4 separate regions of the Homo sapiens genome follow, and regions 2, 3 and 4 are each linked to region 1. Evidence: fine-mapped expression QTL. A gene starts in region 1. Each other region holds a variant in brackets. All regions are shown on one strand. Distances are from middle to middle.

The links. PIP is the estimated chance that this variant, and not a neighbour inherited with it, causes the effect.
Region 2: its variant is fine-mapped to the expression of SPATS2L in lymphoblastoid cells (TwinsUK, PIP 0.95).
Region 3: its variant is fine-mapped to the expression of SPATS2L in whole blood (TOPMed, PIP above 0.99).
Region 4: its variant is fine-mapped to the expression of SPATS2L in whole blood (INTERVAL, PIP above 0.99).

Annotation. Positions count from the first base shown.
Region 1 is chr2:200,303,486-200,309,213 of GRCh38, forward strand. It overlaps SPATS2L (spermatogenesis associated serine rich 2 like), which reads left to right and starts at 3,208. Exons shown (of 13, transcript NM_001100423.2): 1 at 3,208-3,437. RefSeq lists enhancers at 1-119, 2,583-2,682 and silencers at 3,093-3,822, 3,843-4,172.
Region 2 is chr2:200,448,996-200,454,723 of GRCh38, forward strand. All of the region lies in intron 8 of SPATS2L (spermatogenesis associated serine rich 2 like), which reads left to right. LOC101927741 (a long non-coding RNA gene) reads right to left here. Exons shown (of 7, transcript XR_007088047.1): 3 at 381-473. Among named protein-coding and RNA genes, the nearest start is that of KCTD18, 58 kb to the right of the region's middle. The variant C/CT (reference allele first, on the strand shown) is at 2,837.
Region 3 is chr2:200,473,083-200,478,810 of GRCh38, forward strand. It overlaps SPATS2L (spermatogenesis associated serine rich 2 like), which reads left to right. Exons shown (of 13, transcript NM_001100423.2): 13 at 4,554-5,728. The coding sequence ends at 4,949. It overlaps LOC101927741 (a long non-coding RNA gene), which reads right to left and starts at 4,891. Exons shown (of 7, transcript XR_007088047.1): 1 at 4,463-4,891; 2 at 3,021-3,160. RefSeq lists an enhancer at 16-165. The variant G/T (reference allele first, on the strand shown) is at 2,668.
Region 4 is chr2:200,330,081-200,335,808 of GRCh38, forward strand. All of the region lies in intron 2 of SPATS2L (spermatogenesis associated serine rich 2 like), which reads left to right. Among named protein-coding and RNA genes, the nearest start is that of SPATS2L, 26 kb to the left of the region's middle. The variant C/CTGTGTG (reference allele first, on the strand shown) is at 2,692.

The DNA.
Region 1 (5,728 bases):
TCCACAAATGTGAGCCCTGCTCTGAACGATCATGCCTAGAGAATCAGGAGCCTGGTACAATCTAGGGGTGGCAAGCGGGAAATACGGCATTTTGCAAAAATCAATACTGCAAGAAAAGAGTCATCTTTATTGAAGGACATGGCATTGTTTCTCCAGGCTTACAATTAAGCACCCTGAATAAAGAGTGTAGGTGACAATGTGGAGGAAAGCAGTACGCACAGATTAAAAATACCTACACGTAAATGTTAAAAAATATAAACGAACATACTTTGTTCATCCCTCAGAAAACATCTGCTCTTATGGTTCTTGTTTTGTTTGCTTAAGAAAAGATCTTCACATTTCTATTTAGTTTAGAAAATAGTAAAATGCAATTCAATCTCTGAATTGTAATCACAGAGAATCATTTTGAACAATACTGTCAAACTAGCATTACACAGATCAAGATTTCAAACAATGTAATTTTTCAAATAAACTTTGACCATCTGGTGAAAACATCAACATATATCTTATTCATATTTTGTTTCTTCAGACTTTTCTATCTCCCTATAATAATAGGAATATAATGCATATTTTAAAAATCATTTATGCCTAATTCAGAAAAATAATGCTTTGTTAGTTATATGATGTGCAAGAAGCTTTTACATGTTTCAATAAGCATATTAAATCCTCTCTAACAGAAACAGAAGTTTTCATTATTTCCAGAAGAAATTAATTTGAACAGCAAAAGGTTCAAGTTTGATTTGAAATTCACTGTCTCTAAAACTTTTAAAACTCTGATTTTTTTGGGGGGGTGCTGGGCCCCTTAGCTAACTCTTGAAATATACAATTGTTTTCTTCGAAGTTATTCTATACTTGTCTTTTCACGCGCTAGGCCTCCACTCACAGTAGAGAATTAGTTTTAGCCTAGTCTGTGGTACAGTGGCTACTCCTACCTGCCTAGTCTCTATTTTTTCATTGATTCACTGCTTTAACATCTTTGCTCTCAACACATACAGCATTTATTCTTATAGCTCCTACCTACAGTACTTACTAAAAGAAGCAGCCTTCGATTAGAAAGGCGGTATATGGTCTTCTTAAAACCCTTTCTTCCCTCTGGTCATATTCTGTTCTTGAAGGCATTTTTTTCTGTCGGACTTCACTAAGCAAGTTAGATTTGGAGTCATGGGAAGATTATGAAGTGGTGGAAGAAAAGAATGAAGACTGAGTTCAATGTTATTTCCAAAGCCCTTCCTAGGAAAAGTGTTGTTTATTATTCATTTTGGAATTCTAATTATGGAGGAAACCTCCCAAAAACATAAATAAATTATTTAGCCAGAGGACCTAAGAAGTGCATCAAATTTCAAGTCAAATGGCTACAAGTTACTTATTACACCTAAATTTAATAAGCAATAGGATGTTTGTTCTTTATGTGTGGTATGGCTTCTAGAAGCAAGCTTTCCTCTCTGTAGCACAGGCAGGGTCCAACGGTCTAGGTTCAAATTCTTCCTTTACCACTTACTAGCTAAAAACTTAGGCAACTTATTTCACCTCTCTGTGCCTCAGTTTCTTTCTTTCTTTTCTTTTAAAGGCTCTGGCTCTGTTGCCCACACTAGAGCGCAGGGGTGTGATCCTGGCTCACTGCAACCTTAGCCTACCTGGTTCAGGTAATCCTCCCACCTCAGCCTCCTGAGTAGCTGGGACTACAGGCGTGCACCACCATGCCCGGCCAATTATTATTATTAGTTTTTTTGTTTTGGAGGGATGGAGTTTCACTATGTTGCCCAGGCTGGTCTTGATCTCCAGGGCTCAAGAGATTTGCCCACCTCGGTCTCCGAAAGTGTTGGGATTACAGGTGTGAGCCACTGGGCCCAGCCCTCAGTTTATCTGTAAAACAGGACAAAAGTAGTACCTACCTGATGGGGTTCTTCCAAGGATTAAATGAGCTAGTACTTATAAAGCACTTGCTAATGTCTGTTAAATAAATTATATTATCCACACACCAATCCAAGGCGACTATAAGGTAGCAAGAACCACTCCAAGTCACATAAGAAAATGAATTCCTTTCGTTTTAGCTCCTCTCTTTATTTCAGCAGTGCGTTGTCAACAGGGCCACATTATGTTAGCAGATTTGAACTTTATCCGAAAGGTGTTTGTATTTTATTTCAAATTATGAATTCCTGAACATCGGATTATGTACGATTCTGCAGTGCCCTCGGAGGCCCATTAGAGTCTGGAGCTCGAGAAGCATAACAAACTCTGGTCTGATATTTGTAAGGAGCTTGACAGCCAAGGAGCCACTCAGAAACAGTTATTGGTATTGCCAAAAAAAAAAAAAAAAAAGGAAGCTAAGAAGTCACCCTTCTAAATAAATAAATAAATAAATAAATAAATAAAAACCTGAATTGGAGAGCTGCCTGCATTTCACTCTACTGCCTCTGGAAGAAGAGTGTTATCTAAAGTGCTTCCATCATGAATAATGATTGAGAAACTGCTTTTACTCTCCCGACTACTGTACTCCCAGGCAGAAACCCACGGCTGAAGCCCACGATGCCCATGTGTAACTTGGTTATTACACACACGTTTGGAGCCCAGTGTGCAGACCCGCAGCGCAGAGGAGGCGGCGGAACACCCCGGGTTGGTCGGGTTTCCAAGGGCTGACCCGAGCTCCAGCACTTTTTCCGCGCCTGATTTTTCAGGTCATTTTCGAATGGGCTATCTTTGCTTACATTTTGAGCTTGGATCCTCTCCAGAAAGCATTACTACCTTCTAAAAGGAAAAACATCTCGTATTTGCAGACAGTGCTGAGGGAGCAAAGTTCATTTTCTCGGGTAGGAGAAGATGATTCTCTTGCAACACGTGCGGATTGTGACAAAATCTTTCATTAACAAGGGGAGTTTCGGTGAAGTGGAGGTTTGGGGAAAGGCGAGGAAGTCGGTCTGGAGCAAGCAAGCAAAGTGCGGAAGCTGTACTGGGATTCTTCTAGAAAGTGGGGTGGGAAAGGAGCTAGGGAGGGCGTGTGGAGGGACGAGATCTGTGTCAGAACGTGCGTGTGAGCGGATACAAAACCCGAGAGAGGCGTGAGCAGCGCTGTGTTTGCGAGCGGGAGCGAGGGGCGCCGGCTGGGGTGTGTGCTCCTGGTGAGTGACACCGAGGGGAAGGCGGGCGGGTCGGCGGGCGGGGGCAGCCTGCGAGGGGCGGGAGTGTCCCTGCGTGGGGCGGCCGAGCCGGAGTTGTGTCAGTGAAGGAATCCAGTCCGGGGGCCGAGCTGGCTGCGCCCTCCGCTGCAAGCGCCGGCAGCGCGGGGCGAGCTCCGGACGGCGCGCGGCCCAGGCAGCGGCTCCCGCTCGGCCCGCCCTCCGAGCCGCAGGGGCCGCCACCGCCGCGGCGCCTCCCCTGGCGACCGCGCCCCCGGGCCCCGGCTCCGGCCCGGGACGGAGGAGCCGGCGCTCGACACAGAGGTAAGCCCAGGACCCCCTCCACGCCGGGCCGGCTGGGGATGCAGGGCGCGGGCGGACGCGGAGGGGCCTGCGCGGCCGGGACGGAGACTCGGCTGGGCCGAGCATTCCGCAGCCCGGGCCGCCCAGCCTCCGCCGCCTCCCGGAGCGCTGGGTGTGGCCCGCGCTCGGCGCCGAGGCGGGCTGGTGGCGCGGACCGGACGCGAAGGTCGCCGTCCTTCCTTTCTCCAGCCGGCGCGGGCAAGCGGGAGGAGGCGCCGGCTGGGACGCACAGTGGCGCTCCCCGGGCGAGCGTGTGGCCGCCGCGCTCCGACGTGTACCCGCCCGCCCCGGATCTGAATCGCCCGCGGCCGCCGTCCCTCGCCTGCCGTCCTCCCGCGCGGGCGCCCCCGTTCCCTCCCAAGCCGGAAAGAGACCCACCGTCCCCCAGGCTGCTCTCTGGCCCGGAGCCGCAAAGCCCACGTCAGCCGCGACCACCCCGCCCTCGGATCCCAGCCGGGTGCGGGGGCCGCGGCCCCACTGAACCCCGCGCCCCTGGCGCCCAGCGGGAGTGGGATGCGTTGGCGTCCGCGCTGCGCGGGTGGGCTGGGGTGGCCGGAGCAGACGCGGAGCGCCCTGGCCGCGGGACGAAGCGGTCGCGCCGCCGCATTTGGGCGGGGGGACCCCGGAGTCCGCGGGCTGCGGACCCCAGCGGGAGACGGGGTTGTCGTAGGATGCGCTCGCGCTGGACGCCGGCGCACTCTGAATATCATGCTGCCGCACACGCGGGGCTGAAGGGCCGAGTCTTCACCTGCGCGGGGATGCGGCGGAAGCGTCGCGTCTTCGCGAGTGGAGGTTTCGTGTTCCCGCGGGGTTGGTGTGTTTTTGAACTTCACGAGCTTCTCATCCCCCCCGCAATCCTGGTTTTAGCAGATGTCGGGGTTTTGGAGACCTGACACTTTTCGTGAAAGATTCTTTCTGTACGTTTTCTTTTGGCTATATTACAGGGTTTGTAGCTTGAGAACTAGTGAAAACCCTTGAACTTCAAACACAGTCTCATTGCTTATTTTTTGAAATTTAAATATTAAAATATGTACCAGCCCCCTCACAAGCCGACAGACTTTAAGACAAACGACTGTGAAATTTTAGAACCTGTGCAGAGAAAGTGGTTTTATACCAGTACTTGAAATAGTAAGGTCGTGTAACCTTTTTAACATCGTTTTAGTTTGTCTTAAAGGAAGGTTTCAGCACCACTTTGACTGGTACTGTTTTCCAGAGTTTAAGCAGATGTATGTAATATAGCAGGGAAGAGGACAGGAAGTCAGAAATCTCTTCACTCTGAAAAAAAAAAAAGACTTCAAATAATACAACCAATACCCTGAAAATAGAGTGGCCGTCTGGATAAAGTATTTGATAGGCCTTATGAAATTGTGTTGCTTAACCAGAAAGCAATGTGTTGTTAGATAGGGCAGTTTTATCTAGTAACTGTCGTGTTTAAAAATATCTGTGTATGATATTCTTTGTTGAATTTTAACTGGGGAAAAATCAACTTTGGGAATGGGTTTCTATTTGGACAAGGCAAATACTGCAGTTTCTAATTAGAGTTTTGGAATAAGCTCAAGCTGTGTTAAAACCTATTGTATGGAGCAGCAGAACAGAAAACATGTCAAATCTGTATCTGTGTGGCAGAAAACATGTCAAATTCTGTATCTGTGTGGCTTTAAATACACACACACACACACACAGACACACAAACTAGAGACTAGCCCCAAAAGATAATTTGCATAAAAATACAATCACTTGAATGCAGAGAATAGCTAAAGACGTTAGTAAAAACTGAACATCTGGGAAAAGACTGTATTAATTGGCAATTTTCTTTCTTTAATCCCTGAAAATATTAAATGATTTTCTAAGAATCAACTTAGTTTAATGTGCTCATTTAGACAGGCAAAATGATCAAGACTCCTTTTGTATTCATTTTGTTTTAGGGAGCCCCCTAATGAAAGTCTTCAGTAAATAGTTTTTCTGCATGCACTGATTTTCCTGAGGCCATTGTGGAGAGAGTTATCTGTGGGCTTGAGAAGCTGCTCTGCCACACCAGTAAGGATCAGGGAAAGAAAATACTTAGGCCACACCGTTGCAGTCTTTGATTGCATGCCAGTCTGAAGCATTTTATGGACCCGTTTTGCCATGTAAGTGGTAAGCTTTTACATCAGAAGTTAAGCTTTAGAAATATCTCACTTTGGGGCCTAATTTTTGTGAGTTTCTCAGTCTGCGATCAGAGTTGTGTTATCAATCACAGTGAATGTTCGTGA
Region 2 (5,728 bases), 150 kb after region 1:
GAAAAGGGCAAATACACATATAACATGGAGAAACTCAAGGTTCCCATAACTTTGTGACTAAGGCAAGTCCCTGTAGTGCAGTATATTTCAAATCTTGCCTCATTTGTGAATATGTGTCTTTCTAAATAGGTGTAGCTCACTCTTTGGAGGTGAAAGCTTCTCTTTTCCTATTTTCTTTCTTCCCTGAGGTTTTCCTCTGCAATAGATGTTTCCCCAGGGCCTTTGCAAGGACTGAATGAATCAGTTGACATGAAGGAAGAGCAGGTTGATAAATACAAAAAGTACTGAACTGGCCTTTTCAGTTTAGGTATAGTCCCCAGGAAACCAGCATAAATAGCACCTCTTATTAATAGCCTTCCTGAGCTACACGTGTGGATTACCTCCATACGTTATGTCAGTCACACACTTGGCACTGGCAGTCAGCTCCGCTGGCACTGCAGCCTTCTTTGCAGAATAAAGGCCCACAATAAGAGCTGGAAGACAAGAAATTGGTTCTAATTTCAGCCTGAAATCGGAAAAGATTTCTGAATCTTCTCAGCAGATGAAAGCTTACCAATCAACCAGCCCGGGAATGTACTTCTGAAAAGGAATTGTTTTCATCATAAAATAGAAAAATAAAGAGGAAATAAGCAAATTGTTCTATCTACACATTCCCATAGGATACTAGAGTATGGTCTTTTAAAAAATATATATGCAATATAGTCTATTTTCACTAGAAAAAAGAAGATGAATTTGTTCTTATATCTTAGTATAAATATAAAATACATTATAATACTAAAAAGTGAGTCCTAAATTACAATTTCAGAATGCATCTTGGAGCTTATTTCTGTTTTTTTGGACTGGTACAGTGAGACTAAGGAGTTATTTTGGGCAGTTTGTCAGCTAAGTCAGCAACAAATCATATAGAAAGGCTGTACGTGAAGCCAATAAAATAGAACTCCTTATATGTATACTACATGCTGCTTCTAGTGACTCTAAACTCTTGATTCTTACCAGGCCATATTCTAATGAAAGACGCATTTTCCAAGGTTTATTAACCACTTAATTAGGAGGCACGGGATGTGGAGTTAGATAGATTAAGGTTTAAATCTCATCTCTACATATTCTAGCTCTGAACCTGGTTGAGTTTTTTAACTCCTTCTCAGCTACAAAGCAGGAATACTGTTATCACTTTCTAGGGGTTTTGTGAAAATTCATATATAAGTAATGTATCTGTCACATCATTCTAGAAAATCACTAGCCTGGCCCATAAGAGATGTTCAGTTAAGGTTGATTCTCTTCCAGAGTAGCATTTGGGAAATTTCTTTTCCTCTACACCAAGACACTGGCAATAAGTTATCCCTTCCAACTTTCTGTTTATTTAGCATGCAGTGGAGTCCAGCTATGGGATAGGAATGGTTCATCACCACTTCTACTTTTTATTACTTGATGAAGAGAGAAGTAAGGCAAAGGGACACCCACTTCTGAATGTCACAGTTGCCACCAAAACAGCTCCCCTTCCCCTTTCTTGTCTTGCCATGCCTTCGCTACCTCTCTCTTCCCCTTTCTTCATTCATCCACTTAATAGATAGATGAATGTGTGTCAAGCCACTACTTTTCAAACATTTGAGTGCACGAGGAGCATCAGGGCCCCATTTCCAGATATTCTGATTCTGTGGATGTTAGGTGGCACCCAAGAATCTTCCACTCAGTGAGTCTAGTGAGTACAAATGTAGGTGGTCTGCAGACCACACTTGAAGGAGCACTTCTAGAAAGACTGAGGGATAAAGACAGTCTTCCTCCTAAAAAAGCCCATGCACTAGTGGCTGCAGATGTAAACAAGCTGGAATGGAGCTGGGGGGAGGAAAAATCAACTCTACCTGGCTCATTAGGAAAGGTTCCATTGCAGAGGTGACCTTTGAGCAGGATCTTGAAGGAAGACTAGAAATTTGCCAGATGGAGAAGGAAGAAAGAAGATTCCATGCAGAAGAAGCAACACAAAGAACCAGAGGCAAGAAAGAACATATGTGCTCAGGGAGAAGTACCCTTCTTCCATCAATAATGATGGGCACGGTGGCTCACACCTGTTATTCCAGCACTTTGGGAGGCCAAGGTAGGAGGATTGCTTGAGGCCAGGAGTTCAAGACCAACCTGGACAACATGGAAAAACCCTGTCTCTACCAAAAAAATATAAAAATTAGCTGGGTATGGTGGTGTAGATCTCCAGTCCCAGCTACTCTGGAGGCTGAGGTGGAAGGATCGCCTGAGCCCAGGAGGCGGAGTTTGCAGGGAGCCAACATCACACCCACACCGCTGCACCCCAACCTGGGCAACAGAGCCAGACCCTGTCTCAAAAAGAAAGTTAATATAACTAATGATGATGGTCTCACTCCATCAATAAATGAATTTTAAGCACATCCCTCTCAAATCAGAAAGTTCATTTATAAATTATACATGTGTACTACTGTTAATCTGTATACTAAAGATGAGGAAAGCCTACTTAGAATAACAAGTGAGTACATAAAATTTAATATTGTATTCCTGCTCCATTTTGGAAGCCTGGACTAGGGTACGGCCTTACCATGGGCAATAACAACACCTGTGATTGTGGGGAAGAGCCTTCTAGGCCAAAAACAAGAAGAGCCCCTCCCCTCCCCTTTTCACATGAGAGCCTGCCTGGAGGCCAGGAGCAGAGGAGGCTAGGCCTGGCTGCCTTGGGTTGAATGTGGGCCAGCATTTCTGGCACTTCTTGTACTATATCAGTTTCTTCCAGTTTCTGTTCCTGTTATTTATGTTCAGCAACCATGATGGCATCTACATAAATGCCCTTCCCCTTGCCCCCACCGTTTTCTTTTTT[C/CT]TTTTCTTTTTTTGGAAGGAAATACAACAGTGATCAGAGTGATTGGCTCTATTTTGTGCTTGAGACAAAGGGGCATTTTGCTTTATTTTGTTTTATTTTGAAATTTGTTTCATTTTATCCTGCTTTCTAATATTTTCCAGTTTTTTAGTAGAGATGGGGTTTCACCATGTTGGCCAGGCTGGTCTTGAACTCCTGACCTGAGGTGATCTGCCTGCCTCGCCCTCCCAAAGTGCTGGGATTATAGGCATGAGCCACCACGCCCGGCAGATGTAACTTTAAAAGGGGAAGCGGGGGAGTCAGCATTTTTATAGTCAAAGACACTGAAATACAGTCAAGTTACTTTCCCTGAATAGTGACCTCCATGAAAAGAAACTGAACTAATAAGTAATTAGCAAAGATAAAAATTTCTATTGTTCATCAAAGTCATATGTACAATTTCTAAACAGAGGAATATAGATTTTTCAGTTGAACATTTAATGTTGTGGGATTTCCATACTATGGGATTATGCTATTCTGTCATTTAAAAAATTCCAATAAGAAAAAGAAATCCCTGTATATTTTTTAATTAATTATGTCCTTTTTGAAGAACTCCAAAATATTACTAATGTTGAGAGTTAGTCCTTATACTAAATCTGTGTGTCTCATCCCAGAAATGCACCTCAGACAGTATGATGAACAATTTATTAACCATGATTTCAAATCATTGTATGATTCCAACATAAAATATGCAGACTAAACAATATTAACACATTGTATTGCCTCTCATAAAAGTAGTAGAAATAAAATGTCAGCCTGATTGGCAATTGAGTGTAGTCATTGATGTTCATTGACAGTCAGATGGATTTTGACTTTGCTTTGTATGTTGAGTGTGGTTCATGCTTGAGGCACCCCCACTCTATTTCCCGGATGAGCGTGATTAGTAGGCAGCCTTTCAAAGGGTTATGTGCTAACCCCAGTCTACATGCTGTGGACATGTATGCAGGGTTTTATATGTTTACCAAATAACACTGTTAAACCCAATAAATCTTTAGAAGGACCAATTTGTCACCAGTGCTGCATTTAAAAAAAAAAAAATCTATTATTATTTTTCAGTTTTGAAAAGAATTCAGGTTGTTATAAAACCTAAATGCAAATATATACAGAGTGGAAGGTGACAGACCCGGGAATTCCAGCAGTGTAACAATAAACAACAACAAATAGCCAAGGACTGGGTAATGTGCTCAGGGTTAAATAAGAGTCAGTGGAAGTGGAGAGGTGCATGGGACAGACAGACATTTCTGGGGTAGACTTCCAAGGATGTAACCATGTGGGAAGTGAAGGAAGAGGAGCCATGGACACTGGGTGAGAGATGACACCAGTAACCAGCATAGAGGGTGCAGGAGAGAGGACAGGATGGGGAGCAGAACAGCAAGGAAGAGCCGGGAATTGGCAGTGTGCAAGAACGTGAGTGCCCTTTACAGTTAGGGCTGCCAGGCCTCCTGACCCTGGGAATAAAGAACCGTACGGTCTTTCTGCATTTGTGGCTGTCAAGCCAGGGAAGCATCTTTGTTGACAGCTGCAACAAAGAAATTGAGAAATTGCAATTGAGAAATTGGTGAGCTGAAACCCCTGACTAGCTTTGCCCTGGGCCCAATAATTGCTGGTAATACTTGGGGAGTTGGACCAGAAATGGTACTCATGGGAACAGTACATTAGGCCTTAAATGTATAAAGGAAGTTTTCCTGCCTTGCAACTAGTGGGCAAAATTTAAGGGAAGGGACACAGATGCTCAGTGCTAGCTAGTACGGGGCAACTGTAGCTTGCCAGCTCAAGGCCCACGTGGTGGTCAGTGGGCACTACTAGGCTATCAGCCCAGCTGACATCCCTCTCAGGGGATGTTAGAACCGTTGGTCACAGTTCTTATTCCTTTGCATTAAGAAGCGGCAGAGCCCACAGTGGAGGGAGATGTTTTTATACCACTCTTTTCTTTTTAGTGAAAGAAATGGAAATTCTTTATGCAGGGAAGCCTGGCTGTAGGGCTTATCAGTCTTTGGCATGCTTTATGCTATTTGGTAGAGGCCAGGAAGGCTGAAATATTCATTAGCATTCATAGCATCCTTTCTCTCCAGCAGTTCCCACCTTCTCTTTCTACTGCATGCGCCTCCTGCTGGGCCTGCCTCCCTCCCCATGCTCCCATTCTGCAATTGTTGGCTTGGCGAATGATGAGTTAAGCTCCAGCTGAAGTACTTTCCCCACAAGAAGGTTCTGCAGCAAAATTGTCTGGGATCAGATGGTCCCCGGCAATTCCTCTCACTCTAGTCTCCCTGAGGCAAATGCATGGAAGATGGAATGTGGCCTGGTTTTAAATCTTTAACATCTAACTCTGGCTGTTGTTACAGATTGAGTTCTTCACCTCCCCTTTGAAATTCTGCTTTCATTCCTCGGTATCTACCAGCAGGTTCTGCTCTCCAGCTTATCAACTACATTGATGGTCCTGTGGCTGCCTCTCTATGGTGGCATCTTTGTATTTGAAGAACACTAGGCCTGACATGACTCACCCAAGCTTCCAAATGAATCAATTTTGTCACTCAATGCCTCCATCTCCAAATTTAAAGAGCCTTTCACAGGGGAGAAAATGATAAATCTATTACTACTAACGAGGCTTTCTGATTCTTTTCATTATTGTTATTATCAGTGCTCTATAGAAAGGAATCAAGACAGTGGAAACATTTTTATAAAATGACACTTTATCTCTGTGATTAACTATATAATAAACTGTAAAGTCTTTGCCATGGTAATCTCCTCCTTACACCTTATTGCTTTGATAATAAAAGCTTTTTTATGGCAACAAAATAAAATTTTACTATCCAGGCAGTTTGGCTAAAATGAGAAGATGTGTTTTTAGAAGGAGAA
Region 3 (5,728 bases), 170 kb after region 1:
GAAAAAAAAAAAAAAACCTGTTTCCAGAGGAAGAAAACAGCAACTACTAGATTCTGGGCCTCCTGGGGTCACACTCAGGCTCCCGCCACCTGCCCTCACCCACTCCCCACCCAGCAGCACTGCCCAGCTGGCCTCTTGGGAACTCCCCTGGTCGCTCTCATCCATGCCTGCCAGGTGCTTTCCCATGTGGAGGAAGTGGCCTGCATGCACTCTTGACCACGTGAGCAGAGTCCACCCCAGTGACACAGTTCTTCTCATGGCTAGGACTGCCACCATCCCTGGGGCCCCGAAACCAGCCCACACGTGGAAGGGACCCACAGAGACTCTGGAACAAGACTCGGAACCTACTAAACTACTAATGAGAGGAAATCTGGCATTTGTTTTTTAAGATATTTTAATCCCCATTTATGTTTAGCTGATCAATAAGAGGCTAAAGTTAGTGCAGTCTTCTCTTCTCTTGGGATTTCAGTAAGGAGAATACATTTCAAAATGGCATTCTTCATTCTTATCTATTATGATGTCTAAAGACACAAGTGTCCAAAGAACCATCTTCCTTCTCTCCTTCTGCTTCTCCACTATATCTTTTGGAGGTGATTTCCCCCTTATCCTTAGAGAATTAACAAAAAATTGGGATCTGCCGGATGCAATGGCTCACTCCTATAATCCCAGCACTTTGGGAGGCCAAGGTGGGCAGATCACTTGAGGTCAGGAGTTTGAGACCAGCCTGACCAACATGGTGAAACCCTGTCTCTACTAAAAACACAAAATTTAGCCAGGCATGGTGGCGGGTGCCTGTAATCCCAGTTACTCGGGAGGCTGAGGCAGGAGAATTGCTTGAACCCGGGAGGCGGAGGTTTCAGTGAGCCAAGATCGCACCACTGCCCTTCAGCCTGGGCAACAGAGTGAGACTCCATCTCAAAAAAAAATAAAAATAAAAATAAAGGATCTGATGATATAGAAGTTGGGCATGCTATAAAGATACCTAAGATACCTTTTATCATCTCCAAGAAAAAGTCTTTTCTTTTTTTTTTTTGTAAGACTTTAAAAATGGTGGTTTTCTAACAGGTGTCTTGTTGGGTTTTGCTGTCTCAGCCTTTGAGAATTCTTATTAATGATATTGACAGGTGTTTTCTCAGGCCCTGAAGTCTTCATGAGCTTTAAGATAGCACTTTGACAAGGAGCATGTTATAATCTCATTAGTTAAAGATCATAATCAAATCTGTTTTTACTTGTAGTCTAAATATATCTTCACAGTTTTTGTTCTTTTTTTTTTCTTTTTTTTGGCACAATCTCGGCCCACTGCAGCCTCAACCTCCTGGGCTCAAACAATCCACCAGGCTCAGCCTGCAGGGTAGCTGGGACTACAGGCACGTGCCACCACGCCTGACTAAATTTTTTTGTATAATTTTTGTAGAGATGGGGTTTTGTCATGTTGCTGTCAAATTCCTGGGCTCAAGCGATCCACCTGCTTCAGCCTCCCAAAGTGCTGAGATTACAGGCATGAGCCACCATGCCTGGCCTCTCTGTTCATTATTAAATACCATGCTGATAATTAAGTCTAAAATTTAGTCTAAGAGTTTCCCTTTTTCATAATTTCTTTAAAAACAAAGGAGGCCAGATTAAGTACTATCTATGTAGATACTTCTTCAGTTCTCTGGTTTAGCAGTTTAGGTAATGGCTCATTTAAGTTGAAATCCACTCAAATATCTAAGTCAGAACACTGTAGACCCAGGCAAGAATGGCCCTTGGACCGGGCCCTGTGTTTTCAAGTAACTTCTTGACCCTCCCGCAGCCATGGCCCTCTCTACAGAGTAAGGAATCAGAGAGACCAAGGAGACAGGGCCACTGGAATCTACACTCTTTGTTCTGAAGCATGCTGCCAGTCAGTACTCGAGATCCTGGGTTACTCTTCCCAAGTGGGCCCAAGCCTGCTCACAGGATCTGCCTGGACCACTTTCCTGTATACATCATCTTGAAGATGAACAACACTGCCAGTTTTCACACCCATCCGCTGGAAGGGTGGGAGTGGAGGCGATGCTTAGGTGTGCAGGCTGGAATGTCCACATTTGTGTGTGCAAGGCCCCTTACAATGTGGGATGGAGCCAGAGATAGGAAAAGACAGTATTCAGACATATGGTGTGTGAACCCCAAAAATCTGAGACAGGTCTCAGATAACTTAGAAAGTTTATTTTGCCAAGGTTGAGGACGTGCACCCGTGACACAGCCTCAGAAGGTCTGATGACATGTGCCCAAGGTGGTGGGGCACAGCTTGGTTTTGTACATTTTAGGGAGACATGAGACATCAATCCATTTGTGTAAGGTGAATATCAGTTCAGTCCAGAAAGGTGGGACTACTGGAGGCAAAGGCGGACAACTGGGAGCGAGGAGGGGGCTTCCAGGTCTTAGGCAGATAAAAGACAGATGGTTGTATTCTTTTGAGTTTCTGATTAGCCTCTCCAAATGAGACAGTCAGATATGCATTTATCTCAGTGAGCAGAGGGGTGACTTTGAATAGAATGGGAGCCAGGTTTGCCCTAAGCAGTTCCCAGCTTGACTTTTCCCTTCAGCTTAGTGATTTGGGGGCCCCAAGATTTATTTTCCTTTAACAGATGTATGGACCTACATTTGTACTCTTGCTCTAGGCTCTGAATTATTGGGGGTTGGTCT[G/T]CCCTAAACCTATACCATCCAGTCACAGTGCACAAATGAAGAACCTTATATATTTGTAACTCATAAAATTTCATGTTTTCTTAAGAGGTTTGATTTTCAAAAAAGGTTTATGTTTATGTTACAACTTAAGAGTCTTGTCAGGAGATAGTATATAAAGCGGGAATAGCTCCACCATTTCCCAACTGTAGATAGACCTTGGGCAAGTCCCTGAAACTCCTTATCCTCATCTATAAAACGAAGCACATAATAGCAACTAACTTAAAGGGTGATTCTGATGTTAAATGAGGTAGTGCATGGTGAGAAACCCCATTCAGTGCATGGTAAGCACTCAATGAGTGTTGGCTATTACTGACCTTGAGGAGTTCAGAAATCTTTCCCTTGTAAAGGAGCTTAATCCATTGCGTCCTTACTGCTCATCCATTTACGTTCCTGGTCAGTGATGTGTTGAAGGAATGATTTTTTAATAGAGGCTTCAAATTTTCTTTGCTTATAACTGCAGAAAGTTTAGAAAAACAATGAATTACCTCTGTGAAAATACACCTTATTTCTGCATGCCACCAAGACCTGCCAGATACACTTCACCCCTATATTTGTCCAAGATAATATTTCTGAACTATAAAGATATTTGTTTTGGAATAAATTAGAAAAGCTACTTTAGAGAAGAAAAGTTACAGAATTTTACTTTTTCTTCACTTACGTAATTAGAATTCCTATGCATGGTTTTGAACAGGAAATTTTCCTTGACCCCTTCACAGGCCTTGCAACAGGGGTGCCTCACTTTCTCAGCCTGAAGCTCTGAACCCCTCGGGGGAGGGAGAGCATGCAGGTGAGCAGGTGCAGGAGCTAGAGCAAGCACTTTTGGCCACCGGCAGGATCAAAACTCCATGCAGTCCCACAGCAGTGCCTAGGGTAGTACCCATGACCCCTGGAGCCCCAGAGGGCATGCGTTACAATGCTCTTTTAGCTTTGCAGTCCAAGGACGGCTTAAGTATTTAACAGCTCAATAGACCTTCTACTTTTTCATGAAGGCAGAGGGTCAATGTGACACTTTTCTGTATCCTGAGCTCTTGTCCAGCATCCATGAAAAATCAGGTCATATGAACAAATTGAAGGATAGTAAACGCGGGGGATTTTATTGCCATTGAAAGTGGCTCTCAGCAGGAGGGAGAGAGCTGGAAAATGGGGATGGAGTGGGAACGTATTCTTCCCCTGAAGTACTGCCATCAAGCAGTCCCGCTAAAGTCAAGCTGCTGCTCTCCGACTCAGACTGCAGTCTCCGACGTGCAGCTGCTTCTCCTCTTCTCTGCTCTGTGCCAGTGGAGCCTGGGATTTTTATGGGTACAGGATACGGGGTGGGGTAGGCCAGGGGTGGTTTTGGAAAAGGCAATATTTGAGCAGGAAAACAGGAATGTAAAGTTCTCACTTTGGGCTTGAGAGTGGGTCTTGGCCAGGGACCCTGCCCTTTTTCTGTGTACAATTTCTGTGCCTCCTGTCCCTCTCAGTCTCTACAGAATGTCTCAGAAATCTCCATAGTAGAGGATCATCATTACTCTGCCCCTGGCTTCTGTTTTATTCTGCTATAGTTTAAGCATCTTTATGAATTTTATTTGACCCAGTTTTTGAATTGTCTGTCTTACACTTCTGTAACCTCTCTTTCAATATCATTTTCTTCCAGTTCCATTTACAAAACAGTCCACTATTCTTTTAGGATTAATAATTTTATCTGCCTGACCTCATCTTCATGTTTTCTGATTCTTCTGGTGTATAAAAAAAAAAAAAAAAAAAAAAAGCTTACCTGTGGCTTAGAGATTTGGTTTTCCTGATGTCTACTGGTGTCATCAGTGGCTTGCTGGCATCTGATACTTATCTCTTTTCTTTTTTGGTAGAATGGATCTTCTAACCAAAGACGGAGATTTAATCCACAGTATCATAACAACAGGCTAAATGGGCCTGCCAAGTCGCAGGGCAGTGGGAATGAAGCCGAGCCACTGGGAAAGGGCAACAGCCGCCACGAACACAGAAGACAGCCGCACAACGGCTTCCGGCCCAAAAACAAAGGCGGTGCCAAAAATCAAGAGGCTTCCTTGGGGATGAAGACCCCCGAGGCCCCGGCCCATTCTGAAAAGCCCCGGCGAAGGCAGCACGCTGCAGACACCTCGGAGGCCAGGCCCTTCCGGGGTAGTGTCGGTAGGGTTTCACAGTGCAATCTCTGCCCCACGAGAATAGAAGTTTCCACAGATGCAGCAGTTCTCTCAGTCCCGGCTGTGACGTTGGTGGCCTGAGCTAGGAGGAAAAAGAGCAGTTTTCACTCAGTTTTGGTTCCCTGCCCGAGGTGCTGACCCAATTCGCTGCCAAAAGAGTGTCAATCAGAATATACAAATCCCGTATGGTTGTGTCATCCTCTCTTAATCATTTTTACTAATTCTAATAATCAGCTCTAGCTTGCTTCATAATTTTCATGGCTTTGCTTGATCTGTTGATGCTTTCTCTCATCAAGACTTTGCAGCATTTTAGCCAGGCAGTATTTACTCATTATTAGGAAAATCAAGATGTGGCTGAAGATCAGAGGCTCAGTTAGCAACCTGTGTTGTAGCAGTGATGTCAGTCCATTGATTGTCTTTAGAGAGTTAATGTTACAAAAAAGAATTCTTAATAATCAGACAAACATGATCTGCTGAGGACACATGCGCTTTTGTAGAATTTAACATCTGGTGTTTTTCTGAAAAAATATATATACATATATTGCTTTATTTGAAACAAATTAAAATATGCTGCATTTGACACCTGGCTAGTTTCTTTTATTGATACCCACCTAGTTATTGAATGTACTGTTTAGTGCTTTCAAAAAAAACTTTAGAGACTAGAGGTTGTGGTGCAAAGCTGTGTACAATAAATACTGTTTCTGTTGAGACAAGTACTCTTTCAGGAAAATATATATATGCCCTTTCAATTAGATTACACAAATAGATGGATATGCACCCTGATCATCTTAGACACACCATGTGGCAGTTGGGCAGTTGGAAACATTGGTTGCAAGTACTACAAACCTCAGCTGAGCCTA
Region 4 (5,728 bases), 27 kb after region 1:
ACTTTTCTGAGCCTTGGTTTCCTCTTCTTTAAGATGGGGTAATTATACCCATCTTGCAGAATTGTCAAGATGTTTTCAAGCTCATGTATGCAAGGCAAACTTACACAAAATTGATATTCAATAAAACAGTAACCAAAGATCATCCTTGGTCCAGACCCTGTTAAATAATCATAAATTCCAAATTGAGGTAGTCCAAATTAATGAAGTCTTATTGCCTCCTGGATATTTCCATTAATGTTTAATATAAACTTGATTCTTTTTCCATAAATGTAAAACTTTTGTGGTAAGATGATTGTAACTTTTTGAAAAGAGCCATAAATATTGGTGGGAGTTGGTTGTTTTCCATGAATAGAATCGAATATTTTACTTCCTCATATTTGAATCACAATGAAAGCACTTTCAGTTGTTCAAAGAGAATTAATATAGAAACAACTGTTGATTTTCTGTCTTTCTGTCTCCATACACATGTCTGCATGCACAGGCGCACACACTGCTTAGTTTTCCTTTGGTTAGGCAGCTGAAGAGTTACTATGTAGATCCTGGCAGCCTTCTACCCATCAGACAAGCAAGGGCACAATCAATTCCTGTTTTCTTGAAACGTATACCAAATAATCAGAAACTCTGATTATTCTGCTGGAAGGCAACAGCTTGATGGAAAGATGTACCAATTGAAAACAATTCTGATCATATTTTTGTCAGGAGAATGAGATGCCTCCAGCTGCCTGTCACTAATCATATTAGAGGTGGAAAGCAGGAATGTTTTACCCTGCAAAAGATTACTCTAATCATGTGTTGGAACGCTACTTGTACTGGCTGCTTATCCCAGAACGGTGACATTAGACATCCCTTCTGTAACTGGTCTTGCCAGTTGGTAGTAGTCTAAACCATATGCCACATGAGCACACTTTAGGAATTTTCTAATTACAGCTCAAAGGCTTTACTTTTATCTTTTTATGCTTGTACTGCAGACATCAGTGATTGAAAATGATTTCCCCCTCAGCATAATCCTATTGCCAGCAGTTATGAAAGACTAGGAAGATGGTAAATGAAGCCCACAATAACTGAAGAGGTGTCCGAATTCAATTATGAAGAGGCCTGTCCCATGTGGACACATAAGCCATATAAATCCATTTTAATTGTGAGCTGTGATGCTTATCTGATTATGTTTATTTTCGATGCAAGTGCCAAAGCTGGATTTAGACCAGAATTCCAGATCTTCAAGTTCTAATGACTAATTTGGGTATCCACTGAATCCCTTAATTCATTTCTTAATTTGTTCTCCCAGAATTAGAGAGTTGCTTGGTTACAGTCATTTTCACAAATTTCTCATGGATCAAAATAAATGTACATAGATGTTTTTCCCCCTAGGATTCACACATTTTGCTCTGATCTCAAGGAACTATTCTTGTTGTTATCAAAATAACAATAACAGTGCCAACAATAACAACAAAACTAACATTCTGCAAGGTAGTGTAGGGAATATAGACCGAGGCTCCAGGAGGAATGATTTTGAGTCGCACCTCAGCTACTTAACAGCAGTGGGACCTTGGTCAAGTTAGTCCCCCTCTCTGTGCCTCAATTTCTTCTTGTAAAATGGGACAAATGAGAGTATTCACCTCATTGGGTTGTTTTGATGATGATTAAACAAGCCCATATATGGAAAGTATAGGTAGGTTGATATGTGGAAAGTCCTGGCACAATAAAAAATGTTAGTTATTTTGTTGTTATTGGTAAGACAGTGGTCGACCAGAGGCAGATTTTGCTCGTACCACAGTATTGTCATCTAAGTATGTCCCATTTCTACGGTCCACTTGGAGAACATTTATGATGGTAATGAAAACACTGGAGACTCTGAATTTGGAATCAATCTCTGTTATTTGTGCTTGTACTCCTTAGTTTGGCTACAGAAATAACATTTTTTGGCTTTCCAGGCTTGATCAGTATTGAACTTGGAACCCTTTTGGTGCAAAATTGCTTTAAAATTTGAATGAACATTTTGTTCTCTTGGTATGCACAATATTAGCCCTCATTAAGAGGAAAAATTTTATTACAATATGTAAAATGTGTGTGTGTGAGAGAGAGAGAGGGAGAGGGAGAGGGAGAGACAGAGAGGAAAGAGAGAGATTTGGAAGAATCAGCTTTAGTAAGTTTACTGGAAATCTTCAAGCTTTTTTTTTTTAGAGAGACAGGGTCTCACTCTGTCACCTGGGTTGGAGTGCAGTGGCGCCAACACAGCTCACTAAAAGTTCAACCTCCTGGGCTAACACAGTTCTCTTGCCTAAGCCTCTGGTGTAGCTGGGACCACAGGTGCATGCCACCACAACTGGCTATTTTTTTTATTTTTTATAGAGATAGGGGGTCTCACTTTGTTACCCAGGCTGGTCTCAAACTGCTGGGCTTAAGCGATCCTCCCACCTTGGTCTCCCACAGTGGTGGGATTACAGGTGTGAGCCACCATGCCTGGCCCAAACTATTTTTTAATACAGTAAAATGCATTTATTATCATGGCTTAGATTTAGTGAATGTGTAGGAGTGAAAGTCTACTGAGAGAATAAATCTAGTAATTTAATGAACTTTCTTCATAGCTTCATAAGAGTTAGTTAATTATGATTTCTTAATTCATTGCCCAAAGAATGAATTACTGGAATTCATTATATTTTTTTTTTGAAAAAAAAAAACTAAGTTAGCTGC[C/CTGTGTG]TGTGTGTGTGTGTGTGTGTGTGTATGTATGTATCTATGTATTCTAGAGAAATATATATTATATGCATCCAGAGATGTGTAAAATATTCTCTATCAGTAGGAGAATAGATTAATAAATTGTGGTGTAATCATATGCTAGAATACTATACAGCAGTAAAAAAATGAACTAGAGCTGTACACAATAACATGGATATATCCCACAGACATGATGTTGAAAGACAGATATGGCCTGGGTTTGTTAGCTCATGCCTGTAATACCAGCCCTTTGGGAGGCCAAGGCTGGGGGGTTGTTTGAGCCCAGGAGTTCAAGACCAGCCTGGGCAACATGGTGAATCTCTTTTCTACAAATACAAAAAAAAAACACCTTAGCTGGGTGTGGTGGTGTGTGCCTGTAGTCCCAGCTGTTTGGGAGGCTGAGGTGGGAGGATCAGTTGAGCCCAGGAAGGAAAGACTGCAGTGAGCCAAGATCACACTACTGCACTCCAGCCTGGGTGACAGGACAAGACCCTGTCTCAAAAAAAAAGAGAGAGAGAGAAAGAAAAGACACAAGATTACATAGCAGTCTTTTTTTTTTTTTAGGTTTTTATTATTGTCTTTATTTTATTGAGACATGATATTTTATATATTTATGGGTTACATATGAGTGTTTGTTACATGTGTAGAATATGTAGTGATCAAGTTGGGAGTTTGGGGTACAAGGGTTTTTTAAAATTTTTTTTATTTTTTATTTTATTTTATTTTTTATTTTACTTTAAGTTTTAGGGTACATGTGCACAACGTGCAGGTTTGTTACATATGTATACATGTGCCATGTTGGTGTGCTGCACCCATTAACTCGTCATTTAACATTAGGTATATCTCCTAATGCTATCCCTCCCCGCTCCCCCCACCCCATGATGGGCCCCAGTGTGTGATGTTCCCCTTCCTGTGTCCAAGTGTTCTCATTGTTCAATTCCCACCTATGAGTGAGAACATGTAGTGTTTGGTTTTTTGTTCTTGCGATAGTTTGCTGAGAATGATGGATTCCAGCTTCATCCATGTCCCTACAAAGGACATGAACTCATCATTTTTTATGGCTGCATAGTATTCCATGGTGTATATGTGCCACATTTTCTTAATCCAGTCTATCATTGTTGGACATTTGGGTTGGTTCCAAGTCTTTGCTATTGTGAATAGTGCCGCAATAAACATACATGTGCATGTGTCTTTATAGCAGCATGATTTATAATCCTTTGGGTATACACCCAGTGATGGGATGGCTGGGTCAAGTGGTATTTCTGGTTCTAGATCCCTGAGGAATCGCCACACTGTCTTCCACAATGGTTGAACTAGTTTATAGTCCCACCAACAGTGTAAAAGTGTTCCTATTTCTCCACATCCTCTCCAGCACCTGTTGTTTCCTGACTTTTTAATGATCGCCATTCTAACTGGTGTGAGATGGTATCTCATTATGGTTTTGATTTGCATTTCTCTGATGGCCAGTGATGATGAGCATTTTTTCATGATGATGAGCATTTTGGCTACATAAATGTCTTCTTTTGAGAAGTGTCTGTTCATATCCTTCACCCACTTTTTGATGGGGTTGTTTGTTTTTTTCTTGTAAATTTGTTTGAGTTCTTTGTAGATTCTGGATATTAGCCCTTTGTCAGATGAGTAGGTTGCGAAAATTTTCTCCCATTCTGTAGGTTGCCTGTTCACTCTGATGGTAGTTTCTTTTGCTGTGCAGAAGAAGCTCTTTAGTTTAATTAGATCCCATTTGTCAATTTTGGCTTTTGTTGCCATTGCTTTTGGTGTTTTAGACATGAAGTCCTTGCCCATGCCTATGTCCTGAATGGTATTGCCTAGGTTTTCTTCTAGGGTTTTTATGGTTTTAGGTCTAACATTTAAGTCTTTAATCCATCTTGAATTGATTTTTGTATAAGGTGTAAGGAAGGGATCCAGTTTCAGCTTTCTACATATGGCTAGCCAGTTTTCCCAGCACCATTTATTAAATAGGGAATCCTTTCCCCATTTCTTGTTTTTGTCAGGTTTGTCAACGATCAGATAGTTGTAGATATGTGGCATTATTTCTGAGGGCTCTGTTCTGTTCCATTGATCTATATATCTGTTTTGGTACCAGTACCATGCTGTTTTGGTTACTGTAGCCTTGTAGTATAGTTTGAAGTTAGATAGCGTGATGCCTCCAGCTTTGTTCTTTTGGCTTAGGATTGACTTGGCGATGCAGGCTCTTTTTTGTTTTCATGTGAACTTTAAAGTAGTTTTTTCCAATTCTGTGAAGAAAGTCATTGGTAGCTTGATGGGGATGGCATTGAATCTATAAATTACCTTGGGCAGTATGGCCATTTTCACGATATTGATTCTTCCTACCCATGAGCATAGCAGTCTTATTAAAAAACAGACAAAACTAAACTTTGTTGCTAAGGTGTGTATATTCAAGTGGCTGAAACAATAAAGAAAAGCAAGGAACTTATTACTGAAAGAATCGGATACCAAGACAGTGCTTACCTGAGGCGGGAGAATGGTGTGAACCCGGGAGGCAGAGCTTGCAGTGAGCCGAGATTGCGCCACTACACTCTGGCCTGGGCGACAGAGCAAAGATTCTGTCTCAAAAAAAAAAGAAAGAAAAAAAAAAGAAGATAGTGCTTGCCTCTAAGACAGGAAAGAGAAAGGACCTGGAGGGCTTCCAAGGGTGCTGGCAATATTGTGTGCTTTGACGGGGCTGGTAGTGACGTGGGCAAAATAAATGAATTTTTAAATTTACTTTCCTGTTAATGAGTTATAGTAATAATTTAAAAAGTTAAAAAGATAAAGTAACTATCTCTTTGGCCTGGCTTAGTTCACACCTTGTGTTCACACCTGATTTTAGTTCTAGAGATTTCTGTGATTATAACTGGCTTTTAGAAGTGAACGACTGTGTCACTGCATGGCAAAGTGGTCTCCAAAGTGGGATATGCACCCCAGGGAGCACTTGAGAAGACTCATTTGGGTAGGAAAAGAAATTGATTAGGACTTGCATTTACATTCATTTTGTTATCAT